Regions from separate parts of the Homo sapiens genome. Here region 2 is linked to region 1. The links come from fine-mapping of genetic effects on gene expression. Tissue or cell type: blood mononuclear cells. Region 1 holds a variant in brackets; the other region holds the start of a gene. All regions are shown on one strand. Distances are from middle to middle.

Region 1 (8,150 bases):
AGATCGCACCATTGCGCTCCAGCCTGGGTGACAGAGCAAGACTCCATCCCAAAAAAACAAAAAAATAACCACAATGTTGGTAGTCTTGGGGCAGTAAGAAAGTGATTTCTATTTCTTTCTCAATATTTATCTCTACCTTTTTTCATTTTTATTATGAATATGTTTTACTTGCATAATAAGAAACAAATATGTGCATATCTACAAACTTTAATACACGTACAGTCTGGAACTCCAACAGTGTGTTACCTATCCCTTACCATATACATCTTGGGAAGACTTAGTTTACACTGTTGGAGTAATCATACTGTCCATGTATCATTAGTTTCTCTTTAAACTTCCAGGTTCATGGCCTTATAATTGACTTATATTTGGTATTATGAGCTCCATCAAGTTCCAGTCTACCAGTAGGCTCTTCCAGTTCTCAGAATGAACGCATTCTTAGGCTAAGTAATCTACCTCTAGTAAGGACTAGATTTGCCATTCTGGGCAAACCACTAGCTTGTACTGAATGGCTGTTCCCACCAACACTGACACATTGCTGTACAAGATTGACTTTCTTGACCCATTGGCAGCCTCTGCAGCTATTTGGCCCCAAATAACTTTGTCATTATGCACTGCCCCATTGGAAACATCACTCTTTTACCTATAGCACTTCATCTGCCTAATTCTCTGAATCTTCATCCGCAGAACTTCAAGGTAGAATTTGCTTTAAATTGTGAGTTTGTTCCTGTTGAATTTCATGAAATCCGGCAAGTGAAAGCCAGTTTTAAGAAGCTGATGAGGGCTTGTATCCCAAGCACCATCCCTACTGACTCAGAAGTGACCTTCCTGAAAGCGCTGGGAGATTCTGAGTGGTTCCCACAGGTAATGTCTGAAGCAGCTTCTTTCTTTATAACTCAAAGAAACAGAGGCCCAAGTAGATATACAGAACTGTATTTGAGAAAAAAAATACTTTGTTCCCCTACTCCCCAACATTCTCCTCCTTCATTGTGTGCCATCAGTAAAGGCCTTTCAGACTAAGGAAATCATCTGGTATAGGAGGTGAGGGAGTAGAAGTCTTGATCGCTGGGTTTTTATCTCTGTGTATTTAAAAGTTTGGTATCTATAGGACACTAAGGAGAAAATTATTTTTAGATGGAAATCTTTGATGTAAATTTAATCAGCATGTATTTACAGGGCTCCTGCTCTGTTGTCAATACAGTAAGGATCCAGGGCAGAGGGCAACTTCTGCATGACTCCCAAGAGCTCTCACCTTTCATTTGTCTGCCTATCCCAGGTCTCTAGATTTTAGATCCACCCCACACTACCCACCAAAGGCACACTGGATGCCCCCAAGCCTACCTAAGGCTTGAAAAAAAAACACAGTGTCTATCATCTTTCAGTTCAGTCAACTTTGGGATATTCTTAATTGAACTTTTATTGAGAAATTAAAGGGCCTTGTCTTTAAGCCCCTTTATTTCTTATATTGCCCAGGCTGGTCTTGAACTCCTGGCCTCAAGTAATCCTCCCACCTTGACCTCCCAAAGAGCTGTGATTACAGGCATGAGCTGCCACGCCTGGCCCCCATTATTTGTTATCACCTTGCAGAAATTCCCAGTCCCCTGCCTCCATCTACCTCCAAGCATCCTGCCTCTTGTTTCCCACAGCACATTGGACTAAAAGGCAAAAAAAAAAAAAGGAAATGATGTCAGTACTCAGGGCTGTGACTGTTCTCAAGATACTTAAACCAAAGAGAAATGCCGCCACATAAATATTTGGCTATAAATGTATCATGCTGTGTTCATTATTATTAAGGCAATTTAGGGTGCTTTGCATACCCGTGGAAGGAACTGGTCGATACTCCCTTCTGTCCCCAGGCTATGAGCCCCAGCTCCAAACGGACCCCTCCACCCAACTTATCTATCCATGTTTCTGATACATTCTGTGCTCTACTCTTTGCTAGAAAGTGGACCTGTACCAAAAGATAGGGACTAAAGACAGTGGAAAATAATTGCCCACTTGGGATATTGACATCTTAAAAGTTAACTCTTAAAGCAAATTCTTTTTTTAACTTTTATTTTGTGTTCAGGGGTACATATGTAGGTTTGTTGTATAGGTACATTGCATATCTTGGGAGTTTGGTGTACAGATTATTTCATCACCCAGGTAATAAGCATAGTACCTGATAGGTAGTTTTTCTATCCTCACCCTCCTCTCACCTCCAACCTCAAATACGCCCCAGGCGTCTATTCCTTTCTTTGTGTCCATGTGTACTCAATGTTTAGCTCCCACTTATAAGTGAGAATATGCAGTATTTGGTTTTCCATTCCTGTGTTAGTTTGCTTCAGCTGTGTTACTGCAAAGGACATAAGCTCATTCTTTTTATGGCTGTGTAGTATTCCATGGTGTATATGTACCATATTTTCTTTATCCAGTCTACCGTTGATGGGCATATAGGTTGACTCCATGTCTTTGCTATTGTGAATAGTACAGCACTGAACATGTGTGTGCATGTGACTTTATGGTAGAACAATTTATATTCCTTTGGGTATATACTCAGTAATGGGATTGCTAGGTCAAATGGTAATTCTGTTTTAAGTTATTTGAGAAATCACCAAACTACTTTCTACAATGGCTGAACTAATTTACATTCCCACCAGAAATGTATATACATTCCCTTTTCTCCACAGGCTCGCCAGCATCTGTTATTTTTTGACTTTTTAATAATAGCCATTTCTTAGAACAAATTCTGAGCCCAAAAGAATTCAGGCCTGGTGATAGCTATGTTGTAGAAACAGTTACATGAGGAGCTTCTCATTACTGAGTAGGGCATTTGCCTTATTCCTGTGTTTAAAGTAGCCTAGCTCTGTTTAAGAGATGGGTTTTTTCATTTTTGTTCTTGTTCAGAGTTGGATTCAAATTGCAAATTATGTCTGATGATCATTAAAATATTTTTTAAAATTACAATGTTATACATCTGGTTTTAAAATCTATATACTATTCTCATACCTTAATTGTTTATTAAGGACTTTGAGCCAATTGATGTGGCTTTAAAAACTTAGCACAAATATATTGAAAGTTTTTTTCTCATTTAGTACACAGTATAGACAAATAGGAGTATCTTTTTTATTTTTATTTTTCGAGACAGGGTCTTGCTCTGTCACCCAGGCTAGAGTGCAGTGGCACAATCACAGCTCACTGCAGCCTCGATCTCCCAGGTTCAAGCGATCCTCCTACCTCAGCCTCCTGAGTAGCTGGGATTACAGGCAGATGCCACCACGCCTGGCTGGTTTTTGTATGTTTTGTAGAGATGGGGTTTTGCCATGTTGCCCAGGTGGTCTCAAACTCCTGAGCTCAAGCACTACTCCTGCTTCAACCTCCCAAAGTGCTGGGATTACAGGCGTTGAGCCACCACACCCAGCCAGGAGTTTCTTTTTTAACATATAATTCACTTACCATAAAATTTATCCTTATGATAAAGGTGCACAACTCAACGCTTTTTGGTATGTCCACAACATTGTGTAACTATCACCACTATCTAATTCCCAAAAAATTAAGAATACCTGAAATAGGCCAGGCGTGGTGGTTCACGCCTGTAATGCTAGCACTTTGGGAGGCTGAGGCAGGTGGATTACCTGAGGTCAGGAGTTCAAGACTAGCCTGGCCAACATGGTGAAACCTCGTCTCTACTAAAAATACAAAAAATTAGCCGGGTGCACTGGTATGCACCTGTAATCCAAGCTACTCGGGAGGCTGAGGCAGGAGAATCGCTTGAACCCGGGGGGCAGAGGTTGTGGTTAGCCAGGATTGCATCACTGCACTCCAGCCTGGGTGACAGAGCGAGACTTTGTCTCAAAAAAAAAAAAAAAAAATGTCTGAAACAAAACTTACTACATCATGGAAAAACAAATTTTAAATCCAATAAAATTCATCTGAATTTCCGTCTTTTGTTGGGAAGTCCACATAGAATCTCTGTTTTTTGTACTCTATGGAATTATAGCTCACCTACTTTTGGGGGAATCATGTAAGGTAATTTTATTTCATTATGTATTACTAGAATGTATTGTTTTAAAATGTGTCTACTTTTTTGAAGTGTCATTTTGTTGTTGTTTTCATTGAGATGGGGTCTTACTATGTTGCCCAGGCTGGTCTCGAACTCCGAACCTCAAATGACCTGCCCGGCTCGGCCTCCCAAAGTGCTGGGATTATGGGCATGAGTCATTGCATCCAGTCAAAAGTGTCATTGTTTAATCTTGATTTGAAAGAACTTTAGGTATTTAAAACATTATGTGGTTCTTTTGTGCAAGCGCTTTATCCCTAAGTCGTTTGATTATCCAGGGTTGAAAGCAACTCTCTCTGACTTCTGCA[C/T]TCAGAAAGCGCTTGGTCTAATTGTGTTCTCCTTCCTGTCTCTTAGCTTCACAGGATAATGCAGCTGGCTGTGGTTGTATCAGAAGTACTTGAGAATGGTTCCTCAGTTTTGGTCTGTTTGGAGGAAGGCTGGGACATCACTGCACAAGTAAACTATTAGACATATTTTTTGATATTTTATATTTATATTTCCATTTGGTCATTTTTAAATTCTTCAGATGACTCTTTTGTATAATGACTAATGTGTTTATGGACAGAGAAAGTCCTGTGTTAAACAGCACCTGGTATCCATCAGAAAACTCCGTACCATGAGCTCTTAGCCCCTACGCAGCCTGGAGCTCTGGCTCCGGGCATCAAGCTCTCCCATCCACAGATGTACCATGCAGGCTTGCGGATGGAGCCCTTGACCAGCAGTGTGAGGCGTGGACCATCCTTCCTGGGTTTTGTCAGTCCATCCCCTGGCTCTCTATAAGCCCCGCCTTAACTCACTCCAGAGTGAAAAGTGTGAGTTCAGACTACATTAAGACATTAATCTGCATCTGCCAAAAAGTAGAATTGATTTTAACTGATCCTCTGGCCTCTGATTAACTTAGGAAAAGGTTGCTGTCAGCAAACTGGCCAGTTAAGGATTAAAGTCTCAATTCCCTGAAAGTAAACTTGTAGCCAAAATGAATTTGAGCTTTAGTTTTTACTGGCAAGTTTACAAAATTAATTTTATTGGCCATCCTGGAATGGTTAGTGAACAAATTTGCTGTCCAGGTAAATTTGTGAATTAGCTATCATCAGAAGGAAGTGCTTTTATCTTAGTAATAGGCCTTTTTCAGAACTAAAATTAATGACAATCCATCCTGCTTATGCCCTAGGTGACATCCCTGGTTCAGTTACTCAGTGATCCCTTTTATAGGACACTTGAAGGCTTCCAGATGTTGGTTGAAAAAGAGTGGCTCTCTTTTGGTCACAAATTCAGTCAGAGGAGCAGCTTGACCCTCAACTGTCAGGGGAGTGGTTTTGCTCCAGTCTTCTTACAGTTCTTAGACTGTGTACACCAGGTAAGTAGAGCAAGCTTGAGTTGACTTGATATGAAGGAAAGAACACAACATACTAGCATTGATGGAGCATTGCGATGGTGTGCCCGGTACCTTCCTGTCATAACTCTGATTAACTCAGCCACAGGACATGCTGAAATCTTAGCAGTAGACTCCTAGGAATGGAAAAGAAAAAAAATTAGTTGGTTTCTGAAACTAGGACAGCTAAGCTGGCTGTTGGGCTTGCCCCAAGTGAAGTAGCCAGCACTCTAAATGACCATCTTCAAAGAAGAGAAGCAAACTTGGGCTTATTACCTAAGAACAAAATCTCTAGGTAATACGGGTCCTGAAATCGAGCACATGGTCTGCCCAGTTTGGGAGGACCCCAGCTTGTGCCTGGGAACATAAGAGGTAAAGCCTAACCCCTGGAGAAATAATCAGGGCCCAGCCAGACAGGCATACAGGCTTGAGAACACTGGTCACTTCTACCACATGGAGAAACTGTGGTACATATATACCATGGAATACTATGCAGCCATACAAAAGAATGAAATCATGTCTTTTGCAATGACATGGATATAGCTGGAGGCCATTATCCTAAGCAAATTGATGCAGAAGCAGAAAACCAAATACCTCATGTTCTCACTTATAAGTGGGAGCCCAGGTATATCCATTCAAATGCAGTGAGGGTAGGGGAGATGTGACTGCTCTAGGCTCCCTCCTGCCTTCATCGCAGGCACATCAGATACAGACCTCTGGATGGGGCCTTGGTCAGGATTGGGTTTGAGAATTGGATGGCACTGAGCTTGCAAGTTGAAGACTGAATTGGCCTAGGAAAAGCAGGCCTATTTCCAGCTTTCATTTGACCACAATCCCAGGGTTGGATGAATGGGTTCTGGCATGTCAAACATTTGTGGGAATGGTGAGCCTCTTTGAAACACACTGGCCTCAAATATCGATTGGAAAGAAAGGCAGAACTATGTTTTCAGGAACCAGAGTTGAAACTAACTGTGATGACACCAAGTTAGTATGTGGTTATGTTTTATTTTGTTTTTATTCTAGTAATCACTTGATCAACTTTCCAGATCACTACATAATTTTTGTAAATAACAGCTTTATTGAACTATATATATCATACAATTCACCTATTTAAAGTGTTCAGTGGTTTTGAATCCATTCACAAAGTTTTGTAACAATTACCACAATCAATTTTAGAGCATTTTATCACTCCAAAAAGAAACTCCATACTCATGAGCAGTGACTTTCCAACCTTTCACCCCACACACAGGAAGCTATGTTTTTTACTGCTCTAATTTACTTATTAAAGACAAGACCGATTGACGAATTTCAATTGATCTGTCCAAGCAGTAACTGGAGGAGCTGGTCACAAGGTTAAGCATGTACCTTTAAACTCTTTGCAGCAAAGAGTATACTATATTTGTTTTCTGTTTGAATATTGGCCCTTTTATTCATACTCCTTTTGGCAAATAGATGAGGGAGAAGTTTGGAGACCATTGTCTCTGAAACAGAAAGCTTACCTGAGGCCAAAGGAGAGGAGCAAGCATCTATCTCTTCTCACTTCTAGGCAGGTGAAAGCATATGAGTTCTTCATGAAAGCACTTCTTATCTTGCTTTTTTATTATGCTTATCAATTGGACTAGACTATTTCCTGCCTCCGTATACCACCATTACTAACAATAATTACTAATTTGTGTCGACTGCTTACTATGTGCCAGGCACTGTTCTGAGCACTACACATGTTATTTTAGTTCATAATTCTTTGAATCTTTTGCTGACCCTCACGCTCCCACTTTATATGTATTTCTAATGAGTCAGGTATAGACTTCTTTGATAACATCTATAGCACTAAAGTATGTTTATTTGTATGTAACTATTGCCCTCTACTTAGTCTGAGAATTCTTGGGAACAGGGACTATGTCATACTAGTCTTCATATCCCTAGTATCTAACACAATTACAGTTTCAGTCTCTGGAATATAATAGACAATAAATAGATAATCTCAATGAATATATGAGAATTTGAAAGACCACAAGTCTTGTTCATGCTCTTACCACCCTTCATCAAGACCATCTAGAATATCCTGGTCGGGCGTGGTGGCTCACGCCTGTAATCCCAGCACTTTGGGAGGCCAAGGTGGGTGGATCACGAGGTAAGAGATCAAAACCATCCTGGCCAACATGGTGAAACCCCATCTCTACTAAAAATACAAAAAATCAGCCAGACGTGGGGGCGCACGCCTGTAGTCCCAGCTACTTGGGAGGCTGAAGCAGGAGAATCGCTTGAACCCGGGAGGCGGAGGTTGCATTGAGCTGAGAAGCCCCCACTGCACTGCAGCCTGGGAGACAGAGCGAGGCTCCGTCTTGGGGGAAAAAAAAAAAATCTAGAATATCCTAAGTAGAATTGCTGGCATAATCTTCCAAAAGCTCAGATACAATCCTTTTATTCCCCTCCACAAAAGTCTTCAAAGCAAACAAACAAAAACCTTCAGTGGCTCCACATTTCCTAAAGAATTACCCTTCCACATATCCGATTTGAATATAACTGGGGGGAACCCAAATGTCTGTCCTACAGTAGGTGAATGGCTACACAATCTGGGATACATCCATACCGTGGACGACTACTCAACAGTAAAAAGGAATTACTGGCACATGCAACACCTTGAAGGGATCTCAAGGACATTATATTGAAAGAAAAAAAAGGCAATCTCAAAGGGTCCAACTGAGTATGATTCCATGTATATAATTTTTTTTTTTTTTT
Region 2 (6,774 bases), 480 kb before region 1:
AATAAACACATGAAAAGATCCTCAACATCATTAGTCTTTAGGGAAAGGCAAAACAGGACCACAATGAGATATCACTTCACACTAAGATAGCTATAACAAAACATAAACAACAGGAAAACAAGAGTTGACAAAGATGCAGAGAAATCAGAACCCTAGTGCATTGCTGGTGAAAATGTAAAATGATGCAGCCACTGTGGAAAACAGTAGTAACAGAACTACTTAATCCAGTAATTCCAATCCCAAGAATATATCCCCAAAATTGAAAACAGGTACTCAAATACATGTACATGCATGTTTGAAGCAGCACTATTCACAATGCCAAAAGGTGGAAACAACCCATATGTCCATATGGGTTGTTCCAGATAAACAAAATATGGTATATACATATGATATGGTTTGGCTGTGTCCTCACCCAAATTTCATCTTGAATTGTACCCCATAATTCCCACCTGTCATGGGAGGGATCCGGTGGAAGGTAATTGAATCATGGGGGCGGGTCTTTCTCCTGCTGTTGTGGTGATAGTGAATAAGTTTTATGAGATTTGATGGTATAAAGGAGAGTTCTGCATAAGCTCTCTTGTCTGCCGCTTTGCTCTCCTTGCCTTCCGCCATGTGGAACTGTGAGTCAATTAAACCTCTTCTCTTTATAAATTACCTAGTCTCGGGTATGTCTTTATTAGCACCGTGAGAACAGTCTAACACAATATACAATGGAATATTATTGAGTCATAAAAAATAATGAAGTATTGATACTTCAATGTGATGCTACAACCTTGTACTGTATCTGCCCGTAAACAAGCTGAGAACAATATACTAAGTGAGAAAAACCAAGACACAAAAAACCCACATATTGTATGATATGAATATGAAATATTCATAATAGGTAAATCCATAGAGACAGAAAGCAAAATGGTGATTGCCAGGGGCTGTGGGAGGGGAGAATGAGAATGACTGCTTAATGGTTGTGAGGTTTTCTTTTGGGTGATGAAAATGTTTTGTAACTAGATAGACATGGTAGTTGTACAGCATTGGGAATGTACTTAATTGCCACTGAATTCTACATTTTCAAGTGGCTAATTTTACAATATGTGAATTTTGCCCTATTTTTAGAAAAGTTGGGAAGGAATATGATAGCTGCCTTAAAAATCTATCATATGAAGATAGATTTTTTTTTTCTGGATAGTTCCGGAGAGCAGAATCAGGGGAAGTTACAGTAAGACAACTCTGAAATAATAAGGAAGAACTTTCTAACAATAGGGCTGTTAAACAGTGGAATGCGCTGCCTCCCAAGGAAGTAAGATTACTTTTTACTGAAAGTGATCAAGTTGGATGATGAGCTCTCAGGGAAGTTACAGAGAGGATTGCTGCACGGGGTATGACTGAGGTTTTTTTTTTTTTGGTTTAATTATTTTCAGGATCAAACTATCTTCCCTCCACGTTTGCAAATTCAGCTGATTCAGTTTTACCATTAGCAACTGACATAGAGGTCCTGGAGTTAAAGTATTCCTTCAGTTTCAGTTCTAGTGCAGCCCAACCCTCCCAATTTGTAGATGAAACAAGTGTGGCAGAGAAAGGGGAAATAGTAAATTACAGCAGAGTAAATCTTCAGGAGCTGAGATGTCAACTCTCTCAGTTCAGAGTTGGAGCCATTGCGGCTTCCTGCTGGTCGTTGGGGAAAATCGCACATTTACTCATTTAAAATATTTTGTAGGCACCTACTATATACTAGACGCTTTGCTAAGAGGCCTTGTCTTATGTGTAAATATGAAGGATCAAACCCTCAATTAATAGTGAGCAGTGATAAGCAACCACAAAGACAACTTCTAAACCACGGAGATTTCCAAAACTTTGGTCTACCACTTGTACAAATTCTACTAAAACTTCGTGAGATATTAACAAATGACAAAGTGAGTTCACCTGAATGTCACACCAGCCAAATTCGAAATGGTCAATAGGAGGTTCAACAAAAAAGCAAGCGACTTTGATAATCCCGAGACGGAAGGACGGGACCATCTATTCATTTTTGTGCATGTTTGAGCAGGGAAGTTGGAAGTCCACCTGCTCGGGCTGCGAGAGCCCTGGGACCGCTGCGAGGGAAGCAAGCCGAGGCGTGCGGGGCTCCCCAGGGAGAGGCCAGCCCAGTTCGGGAGGATCCCGGGGATGCCGCGTTCCTCGGTGGAATCTGGCTCTCCCGGGCGCTCCGGGGGAAGCCCAGGCCGACCGCCCCCGGCCCACCCGGCATTGAAACCCGAGGCTCCTTGGAGGATTGCGTAAAAGCCTCTCCCTCCCCCGTCTGCTCGGTGGCATGTTTCTAAAATTCCCATCTACACAACATAAACAGGAAACGTGCAGCAAAAGCCCTGTCGATGCAAATTCCTTGCTTCCAACCGAGGGCGGGAGAATTTCATCTTTGGTGGTGGTGGGGAGCAGAGGAAGCAGCCAGCTTTCCAAGTGACCCCTCAACTCTCCACATCCCTTCTTCCAAATCCAAACAGAATAGAGAAGGCGGAAGGAAGGACCCCCTGCTTTAGGAAAAATAGGGAGGCAGAGGGGGCCGTGAAGCAGCATCCAGGCCTCAAAGTGAACCACCTCCAGGGGCCGCGGTGGCGGCGCGTGGCGGGAACACGCCCGACCGCCCACTCCCCCAGCGCAGCAGTCCGCGAGGCCCGCGGAGGGTGGAGGTGGGCTCGCCGCCCGGGCTTGGGGCAGCCGAGCCAGCGCGGGTGGGGGCGGGGGAGGAGCGGGCACTAGGCGCCGCGCAAGCGCAGAGCGCGCCTCGGTTGTCAAACATGGCTGAAGCGCTGCCGCTGCCGCTACTGCCGCTGCAGGGAAAATGCTGAGCCCTCCCGGGCCGGGTGGGCGGCGGCGGCGAGGGCGGCGACGGGGACCCGCTTCCCGAGCGCGGCGGCGGCGGCCATGGCCCGGCTGGCTGACTACTTCATCGTGGTAGGCTATGACCACGAGAAGCCAGGTAAGGGTGTGGGGCGGCACCGCCCCCGGGCCTCCCCGCCCCCCGGCCGCTGTCCAGTGGGCTCCGCGGGGCCGGGCGTCGGGGACGGGCGTCGGGGAGGGCCAGGCCGAGTCTCGGAGGAGCGGGCGGTCGGCGTCCGGCCTTCTCGGCTGGGCTGAGCCTGGCGGTGGGCGTGGGGGGGCCGGCACGACGGTAGGGGGAGGGAAGACGCCGCGTCTGCCCAGCCCCTGGGCGCACCCGCTGGGCGGGCCGGAGGCGAGTTGGGGTCTCGCGACCCTCCCGCTGGAGGCTGCAGGGTACCCGGGGCAGAGAGAGCCCTGAGATTGGGCCCAGGACCGCAAGGCTGGGAGGGCGGGAGCCAACTGTGCTAAGTTCCTCGGGGATAAACTTCTGCCCTGCATCCTGAGTGAGTAACCAGTGACGCAGGGGGTTGTCCTCTCCGAAAGGAAGTGCTGAGAGTCCAGTGCTAACTCACCCCTGTGCTGTTGGGGGCCTAGTGACCTCCCCAAGGAACGCGTGGTACCAGGGAAGGGGACAGGATTCTTTGCACTTTTACCCCTTTCTAGGAAATGCTCCCTATTCTTTCAGGACAAATGTGACGGTCACTTCACAGTGACATGACTTGTCTTTTAACTAAGGACAGCCAGCTGACCGCTGAAGGTGATCTTGTTTCACTTTAATGTGTTTTCATTGTTCTTTTTATTTGTCACAGAATTTTCGTCGTAAGGAACAATTGGGCAAATGCATTGTATTTTACACTTTAATTGACGGACTTCCACAACTTAAGAGAATTCAGGGTTCATGCACGTTTATTTCTGTATTTGTATTCTCTTGTATTACTATGTAGCTAAGCATAATGTAATAACAAATTGAGCTGGGAAACCACTTCTATTTTAGGGCAATTCTAGTCCCACATTTGCAAGGAATTTGAGATATCAGCTCTACAGCCCCTTCATTTTTCAGAGATGCTGAGATTGTGTTTTCCTGATGGTTACAGCCATTGGTAGCTCAGAATACCATTGTTCTACCCACTCTTGGTCCACTCTCTCTTTCATTATTCCTCTCCTAAGAACTTCCTCTCCTTTAGTGGGAACCTTTCATGTTCTTTTCTCTTTCACCAGTCATGACCTGATTGAGGTCAATTGTTAAAGAGAAAGTTTAAATGTTTAAACTTCTGGATCCAAAATTTTATTTCCTAGTAATTTGGCATAGTCTGATGTTTCTTTTCTATCAAGATTAAGTGTGGGAAATCAGTTTTTTAACCTTTAGTTTTTAGTGACATTGTTCCGCCTCCCCCCCTCCCCACTTTTAAACAATTTTTTTTTTTTTTTTTTTTGAGACGGAGTTTTGCTCTGTTGCCCACGCTGGAGTGCAGTGGTGCGATCTTGGCTCACTGCAACCTCTGTCTCCCGGGTTGAAGCAATTCTCTGCCTCAGCCTCCGGAGTAGCTGGGATTTACAGGCGCCCGCCAACACGCCCGCTAATTTTTGTATTTGTAGTAGAGACGGGATTTCACCATCCTGGCCAGGCTGGTCTTGAACTCCTGATCTCGTGATCCACCGGCCTCGGCCTCCCAAAGTGCTGGGATTACAGGCTTGAGCCACCACGCCCGGCCAACAATGTTGAAACAATAACAGACTTGCAAAAAAGTTGCAAGAATGGTACAAAAAATTCTACCCGCCCCCCAACAATTTGAGAGGAAGCTGTTGACCTGATGCCCTGTCATCCCAGAATACTTTAATGTGCATTTTCTGCAAACAAGAATGTTCTCCTACATGATCACAGTGTAATAACCAAAACAGGAAATGGATAGTGATACAGTACTCCATCTAGTTCTCAGACTGGTTCAAGTTTTGTTGATTGTGCTAGTAATCTCTTTACTGGCAAAAGGATCCAGTTTAGCAATATGTGTTGCATTCATGTTATGTCTCTTTTGTCTCCCTCAATCTGGAACATTTCCTTTATCTTCTCCTGACTTTCATGACCTTAACATATTTAACAATTACAGGTCAGTCACTTTGTAGGCTGCCCCCTCAATTTGGGATTGTCTGTTCCTTCATGATTAGATACATACGAATATGCACGTGGGAAGGATATCACAGAAGTGATGCTCACTGCATCCTGTCAGGTGGTGCACAATTTCACTTTGTTTCATTGTTGGTTATTTTTACTTTGATTACTTGATATAAGTAATATCTGCGAGGCTTCTCCACTGTAAAGTTAATACTTAATTGTTTTTGCCATGTACTTTGAAACTATGTAAATATCTTGTTCCTCACTAAACTCTTAATCATTTATTGACATCTACATGGAGTCTGTGTGTGTGTGTGTGTGTGTGTGTGTGTGTGTGTGTGTGTTTAGTGGATTATATTCTGTTACTATTTGCCTTAGTCTATTCGGAAAAAGTCACTAGCCCACCTGCCCGAAGCACTGGCTTGAGTGGGAAATAGGAGAGTCTAAGCACATCCAGCCGAAGTGAGACCAGAAAGGGGAGCTCGCGGATTATATTCTGTTACTATTTGCCTTAGTCCATTCGGGCTGTTATAACAAAAATACCTCAAACTGGGTGGCTTATAAACAATAGAAATTTATTTTTCACAGTCTGGAGGCAGAGAAATCCAAGATGAAGACTCTGACAGATTCAGTGTCTGGTGAGGACATGCTTCCTCATAGCCATGTTCTCACTTTAACCTCATATGGCTTAAGGGTCAAATGAGCTCTCTGGGGTCTCTTTAAAAAGGGAACTAATCCCATTCACAAGGACTCCACCACCATGACCTGATCACTTCCTAAAGGCCTCACCTCATAATACCATCACTTTGGGTGTTAGGATTTTAACATACGAATTTTGGGAGGGGACATACACATTCAGACTATAGCATTATTTATTTTGATGTTCAAATTGTTCTTTATATGGCCAATGAGAGTTGTACAAGCTGGCTTCTGTGTTCTTATGGTACATCCCCATCACTCTTTGAGAACAACTTTGTACTTTTTGGCACAAGAACCTGTTCCTGGCTCATCTTGTACTTTCCATGCCTTGGTTCTGTAATCAGCCATTTAGGGATCCCTGGTTCCTTTTAGTGGAGAATGACATTTAGAAGCTAAGATCTCAAGGCTAGTGTGTTTATTGCTGTTGGGCTGTTACTCCTTCCAGGTCCTGTTAATGGTCAGGGCTGGTAAGTATAGGTATGTATGCATAAACATACATATGCATTTATATCTATATTTATTTATTATCTCTGTATATTGAAAACTATGAATTCATACTGATACCTCCAATTTCAGTCAAATAGTCCAGGATCTATTCTAGTGTTCTCCTTTTTCATATTGTAACGTTCTTCTCTGACAGTGAGAAATCTGGCTTCTGTTATCCTGAATGTATTTACTTATTGTTCAGTCTCCCATCTTCACTACCATCTACTCCTCTCCCTGCTGGGACTTGGATTCTTCATTCCATCTCCTCCATCCCCCTACCCCAGTCTGGATCTAAGAGTCCATACCAGCATGCTTCCATACAGGGACACCCTCCCCAGCACTCTGGTTATGACTCCTCATGTTGGTCTCCCCACTGTCGGTGGACACACTTCGTACCCCACTCAGACTCTGACACACCCCAGTGAGTTGCTTCCATTGGAAGATATCCTTCTCACTCTGTTGTACCCCAGTGCCCTTTGCCAGTTTCCCCCTCCTGCCTTAATGCTTGGGCTCTGAAGCAAAATGTTTGCCTCTTCCCCTACCACACAGACTCCTTCCCTAGCTCTCTTGGTCTATGACAATATGACAAGCTCCACCCCAGGGAT

What was found. PIP is the estimated chance that this variant, and not a neighbour inherited with it, causes the effect.
Region 2: SBF2 starts here. The variant in region 1 is fine-mapped to the expression of SBF2 in blood mononuclear cells (TOPMed, PIP 0.99).

The regions. Positions count from the first base shown.
Region 1 is chr11:9,805,246-9,813,395 of GRCh38, reverse strand. It overlaps SBF2 (SET binding factor 2), which reads left to right. Exons shown (of 40, transcript NM_030962.4): 30 at 688-864; 31 at 4,394-4,495; 32 at 5,211-5,396. SBF2-AS1 (SBF2 antisense RNA 1) reads right to left here. Exons shown (of 3, transcript NR_036485.1): 2 at 4,112-5,548; 3 at 2,077-3,136. Among named protein-coding and RNA genes, the nearest start is that of LINC02709, 50 kb to the right of the region's middle. The variant C/T (reference allele first, on the strand shown) is at 4,348.
Region 2 is chr11:10,290,212-10,296,985 of GRCh38, reverse strand. SBF2 (SET binding factor 2) reads left to right here and starts at 2,767. Exons shown (of 40, transcript NM_030962.4): 1 at 2,767-2,971. The coding sequence starts at 2,917. RefSeq lists silencers at 2,630-2,679, 2,800-3,079, 3,110-3,189, 3,230-3,369.